Regions from separate parts of the Homo sapiens genome. Here region 1 is linked to region 2. The links come from fine-mapping of genetic effects on gene expression. A gene starts in region 2. The other region holds a variant in brackets. All regions are shown on one strand. Distances are between the middles of the regions.

Region 1 (4,399 bases), 65 kb after region 2:
TACAAAAACCAGGCATGGTGGCATAAAATAGGGGAGATTATCCTGGATTTCCCTGCAGGCCCAGTCTAATCACATGAACCCTTAAAAGCAAAGAATAATCCACAGCTGGAGGCAACAATTCAATGCCCTGTTGCTGCTTCTGAGATGTAGGGTTTGTGTGCAAGGACTGGAGAGAGACCTTTAGCTGAGTGTGGCTGTTAGCTGACAGCGAGCAAGGATGTGGGGGTCTCAGTCCTACAAGTGCAAGGAGCTGGCTTTTGCTAGCCATCTGAATGCATTCTGAGGTAGGTTCTTCTCACAGCCTCCTGATGAGAGCACAGCTCACTGACTCCATGATTTTGGTTTTGTGAAATTAAGCAGAGAAACCAGCCAAGCCTATCCAGATGCCTGCCCTACAGAACTGTGAGATAATACGTTTGTGTTGTTTTAGGCTATGAAATTGCTGCTAATTTTTGATGGCAGAGTTAGGAAATTTAATACACTACCATATTTATGCTTCTGTGCATAAGTTATAATAAGCCAGCTCTTAAACTGAGAGGAAAGATGAGTTTTTAAAAATAAGGGCCATTTTTTTTAAATTGGAAATTAAAATTCTATAATGGACTGATTCTTTTATAAAAAACAATTACTAGAAAAGTGAAATTTTCAAAAAGCACAGAAAAGCCTCAATTCTTTTATTCATTTATTTTTGATTCTACAGGATAAAATTGCTCTTTCAAACTGCTGTAGAAGTTTCTAAATATTTTAAAATATCTGTTTATCACTTGCAGATTTGTGATCTGTTTGTGGACTGGCATCAGTCCACAGATAACATTTTGAGCAGGACTGAAAAAAGCACCATCACATCCAATTTGTGAAGATATAAACACAAATTGGAAGTAAGCTATAAACAAATGTCTAGGGATAAGAGACTCAGCATTGAGTAGTTGTGATTAACATTATGGTACTCATAGCTATGTAAATCTGCGAAACAATTGCCATTAACTAAAGAAGTCATGACTGTTGGGTGCCCTAGAGTCTAGTCAGCACTAATACAGTAACACAGAAATCACTAAGTTTAGCAAGTTGGGAGAAGTATTGAAAGGGCCAGGAGTGGCCTAAGCTTCCTGGTTCATTTGTTGCCAATTATATTAGTCCATTTTCACACTGCTAATAAAGACATACCTGAGACTGGGTAATTTATAGAGGAAAGAGTTTTAATGGACTCACAGTTCCACATGGCTGGGGAGACCTCAATCATGGTGGAAGGCAAGAAGGAGCAAGTCATGTCTTACATGGATGGCAGCAAGCAAAGCGAGAGCTTGTGCAGGGAAACTCCCCCTTATAAAACCAGTGGCTCACGAGCTGTAATCCTAGCACTTTGGGAGGCCAATGCAGGCAGATCACCTGATTGTCAGGAGCTCAAGACCAGCCTGGCCAACATGGTGAAACCCTGTCTCTACTGAAAAAAAAATACAAAAATTAGCCAGGCATGGTGGTGTGTGCCTGTAATCCCAGCTACTCCAGAGGCTGAGGTAGGAGAATTGCTTGAACCCGGGAGGTGGAAGTTGCACTGAACCGAGATTGTGCCATTGCACTCCATCCTGGTGACAGAGCGAGACTGCATCTCAAAAAAAAAAAAAAAAAAAAGAAACCCAAAAAGCAAAAACCAAAAAACCATCAGCTCCCACAAGACTTATTCACTGTCACGAGAACAGCACAGGAAAGACCCACCTCCGTGATTCAATTACCTCCCACCAGGTTCCTCCCACAACACATGAGAATTGTGGGAACACAGTCAAACCATATCACCAACTAAACACTAACATCTATTAATGTCTTCAATAGGAGTTGATTGACCACCAGTTGAGAGCCTGCAGTTCATCAGTTGAGAGTGACAATTCCAGAGTGACCAGCTGAGCATGTAATATGAAGGAAACTGGAGAAAAGCCTCAACTACTTTATGATTATTCCTATGATTTGTTCTTAAAGCAGAGAAGCATCTTTTTATTTGTTTTTGATATCCTTGTTTGATGAAACCAGCATCGTTTTAGAAAAAATATCTTTGTTTTAGTAAAAATGACACATACTCATTGAAAAAATAAACCCCTTCAAAACTGGAATGATACAAGAAAGTGCAGACAAGTAAAGATCACCTGCAGTGCCAGAACCCAGAAATAACTAATGTTAACAGTTTTGTAAACAATCTTCTGGTCGTCTCTAAATATGAGCATATGTGGATAGATATGAATACACTTTTATATAAATAGGATCATAAACATAATGTTCTATAATCTGCATTTCTTCAAATAAGGATCTTTCCATGGCATCAAATATAGGACTACATAATTTTTAATAGCTGCACATACAAGAGAATGTGTATATCATGGTTTATTTAACCTAGCCTTGCAATTATTGACATTTGGTTTATATGTCTTTAACATTATAAATAATAGGTGAACACTCTGGTGCATATGTCTTTCAGCACATGGGTAATTTCTCCTTAGGGTAAAAACCTGTAAGTGGAATAGCTGTGTAAAAGCATGAACCGCTTTCCAGAAAGTCTCTTTTGGTTACTCTTCCATTCATAATGCACAATA[A/G]TATTTCCATACTTGATAACATTGTATTGCTAATTCCAATGGGCAAAAACCATGTCCTGTTTAATGTTGATTGAGCTTTCATCTGTTGACTGGGCATTTGTGGAAGTGTATGTGTGTGTGTGTTTGTGTGTGTCAGCGTGTGACTTCCTTTTCATGTTCTTTTTTTTTTTTTTTTTTTTTTTGCGACGGAGTCTCGCTCTGTCGCCCAGGCTGGAGTGCAGTGGTGCGATCTCGGCTCACTGCAAGCTCCGCCTCCTGGGTTCACGCCATTCTCCTGCCTCAGCCTCCTGAGTAGCTGGGACTACAGGCACCCGCCCCGCTAATTTTTTGTATTTTTAGTAGAGACAGGGTTTCACCGTGTTAGCCAGGATGGTCTCGATCACCTGACCTCGTGATCCGCCTGCCTCAGCCTCCCAAAGTGCTGGGATTACAGGCGTGAGCCACCGCGCCCAGCCCTTTTCATGTTCTTTGACTGTTTTTCTATTGACTGTTCATTCTTCCTAGTATTAATAACTTTTTGTATATTTGAGATTAACCATTTTTGCCTATTATGTATTTTATATATATGTCATATGTCATTTTAAATATAATGAAATGTATTAGTCTTTGTGGTTTCTAGTTTTCATGATATGTTTTGAAAGGCTTAATTGTTTTGTTACAAAGTCTGAACTTGAGTTATGAATGCAAATTTCCCCTCTCAAATGCCTAATCTGTTTCCCAAACACCATTTACTTATCCCTTAAGGGATTTACTTTTCCCTATTTGATCTATTTCCCACCAATTTTAAAATGTCATCTTTATCATATACTAACTTCCTGTATGTTCTTGCGTGTATATGAAACTGGCACATACAGGGAGACTCTTTATTTAACTTTTACTTAAAGTAGGAGGTAGGAAAGAGATCTGTTGAAACCATGACAGAGAGTGTTGCAGCGCCTGTCAAAGTTATCCTTGCTTATTTGTAGAAAAATTGAACTTTCCATTTTCCTAACTTTCAACTTGCAATTGAATGACACTGATTCTACTAGGAAAAAAGTAAAAGCTATACTATTTGATGCCAGATGTATGACTGTGGGCTGATGAGGAAGAACTGGAAACAAATGACAGGTGATTCACTGCTTTGTGTCTGGTGTGCCATGACTCTCTTGAAGGGGGGCAGTGTTGATCTGAATCTTTTTGTCTAATGCTTTTTCTTCCTCTGGGAGGGATGCTGAAGAGGGGCAGCTGAAGGAGCAGTCTTAAGCAAATTGGTCATGGCTTTCTTAAATATTGTGATTCGATTGATATGGAACATTTTTTCAGTCTGTGAGAGACTTTTCATTATGGACTAGCTCATAAAAAACCGTAGATTTAATTTGCCCAGGCTGTTGGTTCTCTTGTGTTTGTTATCATACGTCAGCATGAAACCTTTGGCCTTTGTGGAAGCCTTGTGGAGACCACTGAACAGACTTGGAGCCATATCTGACTCGCCTGCCAGCATTCCTGATGTTCAGTGCCTGTTATTGCCCCTCTCCATGGCATTCTCCTCTGTGGTTATGTGAAAGGAAAATAAATCACTAAGCCAAGGGAAAAATCAAACTGGGAGCTATGTCAGGCAAACCTGCCTCCCATTTTATTCCTAAATAACATAGCTACATACCTCCCTCGCAATTTGCCACAGATCCTCGTCCACAAGGAAATTCACTGTGGACAAAGGACAGACAGAACTCAAAGTCATCCCTCTGAGACTCACCTGAGACAAATGCATATCTGATTGCTTCCTTTGCCCTATTGTTTATGTAAAAATGCAGATTCACTGAGTCAGACTAAGTTGTGTATTG
Region 2 (4,399 bases):
ATAGCTGGAATTACAGGCACATGCCACCACACCCAGCTAATTGTGTATTTTTAGTAGAGACGGGGTTTCTCTGTGTTGGTCAGGCTAGTCTCAAACTTCTGACCTCAGATGATCTGTCTGCCTCGGCCTCGCAAAGTGCTGGGATTACAGGCGTGAGCTACCATGCCTGGCCTGTTTTTTTTTTTTTTTTGTAATGGGGGTCTCATTATGTCACTCAGGCTGGAGTGCAGGGGCACGATCACGGTTCACTGCAGCCTGGACCTCCTGGGCTCAAGTGATTTCCCCCCCATCTCAGTCTCTGGAGTAGCTGGGACCACAGGTGTACACCACCATGACTGGCTAATTTTAAAATTATTTATAGAAATGAAGTCTTGCTATGTGGCCCAACCAGTTTGGTCTCAAACTCCTGGGTTCAAGCAATCCTCCCACCTCGGCCTCCCAAAGTGTTTGGATTACAGGCATGAACCATTGTGCCCAGCTACTTTTTTTGTTTTGATCGAAATTATCATGTGATTTTTCTAACTTAATATAGTGCATTACACATATTTTCAAATATTAAAACAAACTTACATCTCTGGAATATATCCCACTTGGTCATATTGTACAATTCTTTTTATATATTTCTGAATTATATTTGCTAATATTTTGCTATGGATTTTTCCATCAATATTCATGAGAAGTGTTGGTATTTTTTTCTTTTTGTACGGTCTTTTGCTGGCTTTGGTAGTGGGGTGATTCTAACTTCATACAGTACATTGGCAACTGTTCCTTCCTCTTCTATCTTCTGGAAGAGGCTGTATGGAATTGGTGTTAATTCTTGTGTAAACATTTTATAGAATTCATCAGTGAAAGCTTTTGGGCCTGGAGATCTCAGGTTTTTTTTTTTTTTAGTTTAAAAATTACAATTACAATTTTCTCTAGTTAGAGGACTATTTAAATTACCTTTTCATATTAGGTTATTTGTAGTAATTTGTGCCTTCTGAAGAATTCGCTCATCTTGTCAAAGTTGTCAAATTTATGTTATGTGGTGTTATTTATGGCATTCCTTTTTGGTGTCTGAAGGTTCTGTAATTATATTCCCTGGTATGTTCCTCACATTGGTAATTTGTGTCTTCTCTTTTTCTTTTTTCTTTGCAGTCTTGCTGGAGGTTTGTTAAATTTATTTATCTTTTCAAAAACCAGATCCTTGGCTGGGTGTGGTTGCCCACACCTGTCATCCCAGCACTTTGGGAGACTGAGGCAGGAGGATCGCTTGAACCCACGAGTTGGAGACCAGCCTGGGCAACATAGAGAGATTCTGTCCCTAAAAAAATAAAATAAAAAAATCAACCAAGCCTGGTGACACACATCTGTGGTCCCAAACTACTCCAGAGGCTGAGGTGGGAGGATCCCTTGAGCATGGGAGGTTGAGGCTGCAGTGAGCTGTGATCGCGTCACTGCACTCCAGCCTGGGTGACAGACCAAGACCCTGTCAATCAGTCAATCAATCAATCAATAGCTTCCCTGGAGACTCCAGCCTGCCACCAGCTTTGGTAACTAGTGGCCGACTGTCAGGCCTCTGAGCCCAAGCCTGCACGTGTACATCCAGATGGCCTGAAGCAAGTGAAGAATCACAAAAGAAGGGAAATTGGCCGGTTCCTGCCTTAACTGATGACATTCCACCATTGTGATTTGTTCCTGCCCCACCTTAACTGAGTGATTAACCTTGTGAAATTCCTTCTCCTGGCTCAGAACCTCCCCCACTGAGCACCTTGTGACCCCCGCCCCTGCCCGTAAGAGAAAAACCCCCTTTGTAATTTTCCGCTACCCATCCAAATCCTATAAAACAGCCCCACCCCTATCTCCCTTTGCTGACTCTCTTTTCGGACTCAGCCCGCCTGCACCCAGTTAAAATAAACAGCCTTATTGCTCACACCCTGTTTGGCGGTGTCTTCACACGGATGCGCGTGACACCGATCTCTTTGAGCATCAGAAGCGCATGACACCGACCATCTTCTCTTTGAGCATCACAAGCGCGTTACACCGACCATCTTCTCTTTGAGCATCACAAATGGTTTTATTCATTGCTGTAGGCCAAGGGCTCAAGGCTGTTTAGCACGAAGTAGACACTGGGTAATCATTTCTTGAATGAAACACATTTTACAGATGAGGCAACTGAGGCTGAGAGAAGTTAAGATCACCCAAGTGGCGGCGCTGGTCACCTTTACATTGCAATTCACTAGGAAGTGTTCAGGTTGCTCTGACCGCAGGGCAGATATTGGGGCTGCGGTGCCCAGTTCCAAAGGTCAAAGCTTGCTCCGCGCCCGCCAGGGAGCTGGTCTAGCGGCTGCAGTGTTAACCCGAGGCCCCGCCCCCAACGGGTGGCGCGAGGCGGGGCGTAGGTGAGCGCTGCAGAGAGGCTGCGCCTTGGGCCGCCTGTCGCCTGTGCGCCTGCGCGCGGCGCCGAGGGGACGGGGTCCGACTCAGAAATGGCGGCCTCCATGTTCTACGGCAGGCTAGTGGCCGTGGCCACCCTTCGGAACCACCGGCCTCGGACGGCCCAGCGGGCTGCTGCTCAGGTAATGCCTTCCAGTCCGCTGTCGTCTCGAGGGTCGGCAGGAGAAAGGGTGAGGTGTGAGGGGTCCCGTGGCCCGGCTCGGGGTCACTTCGCCGGCAGTGACATTTTCTGGGTGCCCTGCAAGGCCCTCGGGCGACTTGCCTGGGAGTGCTGCTCGCCAGGACTACGAGCGAGCCCATGTTTGCGCGGCTCTGACCCAGCCCTTAGTCCGCGAGGATCCCCGGCGGCCCGGCCGTGGCTGCTCCTGCAGTTTCTAAGAGATGGGCGGGAGCAGGTGGGCTCTGAGTGGAGGTGAGGGGGTCAGGACATTTTCTGCTGCCATTCCGGCGTCTGGCACGGTGGGCTGAGACTTGCGCCGCCCCTTTTTGGGCAGGGGGGAATGCCCTTCAAAAGTACTTTTGTGTTTCTTGGGAGCTGTCATAGGTGGGAATGTCAGAGGACCAGCGGTGCTTACTGACTTGCCTTTTGTGGGGCAAGGTAGGGAAGTTTCCCCTCTCCTCCAAGTAGTTGTATACTGTTCTACTTGTTAATAGCAGTAATAAGATTATGTTTTCTACCTAACCAGTTGGAGAGGTAAGAAAATAATCTTTTGTATAGCCTTATTTCTGGATAGGCTATAGCATAATAGTTACTGGCCTTGTTTTGAATATTTGATGTGTGCCAGGTAATGTGCTAAGCGCTTTACGTGTAGTTTCTCAGGTTTTTCAGCAACTGTGAGGAAGTCATTCAACACCTGCATCATTGTTGAACATATTATGGTTAAGAGAACAAGTAATTTGGACTAGGTCATATAGGAGGTAAGATCAAAGCTGAGATTTAATCCCAGAGGTGTCTGGTTCTAAAGCCGTGTACTTGAGTTGGCTCCACAACTTCGAAAACAAACATCTTCCTTCCAACTTTGACAACAAAAAACTGTGGAAGGGCATTATTGGTGTCCTAAGTCAATTCCAGAGTTTTGGGTTTTTTTCTGAAGTAACTCTTCATACATGTCATAGTATGAATTGATTTAGGGCCCTCCCGCCCCTACCTTTTTTTTTTTTTTTCATTTTTATTGAAGTTGTTCATACTTTCAGCCTAGGGGTAGTGAGTTCTGTGAGTTTGCTTCCCGATAGAAGTGACTTTTTGACCTTGAACTTCCTTCTTATGAATCTTAGAAGAGTGCTATTTAGTTTTTAGAAAATGGGGAATTTAGTGACAAATACGTTTTCATTCTAGTCAAAATCTTTATCTTTTTGGAAGTTCATTTAAAAGCCTTCATTTCTCCTTATGGAAATTTCCAATATTATTTTCTTTATAACAGTTGCTGTCTTCTACCCTGGTATTAAGAAATGCAGCTCTAGAGTTTGGAAGGACCTTAGTCCAACCCTTTGCTTTTGTAGATGAGGACATAGAAGTACGGAGTCTTAAGAAACTCGTTCAAGGTCACACATTTAATTTAGCAATTTGTTTTCCACATTTTTTTTTTTTTTTCCTTGAGACGGAGTCTTGCTCTGTCGCCCAGGCTGGAGTGCAGTGGCGCGATCTTGGCTCACTGCAAGCTCCGCCTCCCGGGTTCATGCCATTCTCCTGCCTCAGCCTCCCTAGTAGCTGGGACTGCAGGCGCCTGCCACCACGTCCGGCTAATTTTTTGTATTTTTAGTAAAGACGGGGTTTCACCGTGTTAGCCAGGACGGTCTCGATCTCCTGACCTCGTGATCCTCCCGCCTCGGCCTCCTAAAGTGCTGGGATTACAAGCTTGAGCCACCGCACCCGGCCTGTTTTAAACATTTGTTTAAGTTCTCTGACCCTCCTCCAATTTCTTGGTATCTTTAGCCTAGTGTACCTTCGTTGAAAATAGATATT

The links. PIP is the estimated chance that this variant, and not a neighbour inherited with it, causes the effect.
Region 1: its variant is fine-mapped to the expression of SUCLA2 in whole blood (TOPMed, PIP 0.91).

What each region holds. Positions count from the first base shown.
Region 1 is chr13:47,934,202-47,938,600 of GRCh38, reverse strand. No RefSeq gene overlaps it. Among named protein-coding and RNA genes, the nearest start is that of LINC00562, 3.8 kb to the right of the region's middle. The variant A/G (reference allele first, on the strand shown) is at 2,580.
Region 2 is chr13:47,999,339-48,003,737 of GRCh38, reverse strand. SUCLA2 (succinate-CoA ligase ADP-forming subunit beta) reads left to right here and starts at 2,465. Exons shown (of 11, transcript NM_003850.3): 1 at 2,465-2,558. The coding sequence starts at 2,469. SUCLA2-AS1 (SUCLA2 antisense RNA 1) reads right to left here and starts at 2,333. Exons shown (of 2, transcript NR_189308.1): 1 at 1,916-2,333; 2 at 1,047-1,303. RefSeq lists enhancers at 1-253, 925-2,124, 2,501-2,690, 2,711-2,760, 2,781-2,830 and a silencer at 2,271-2,380.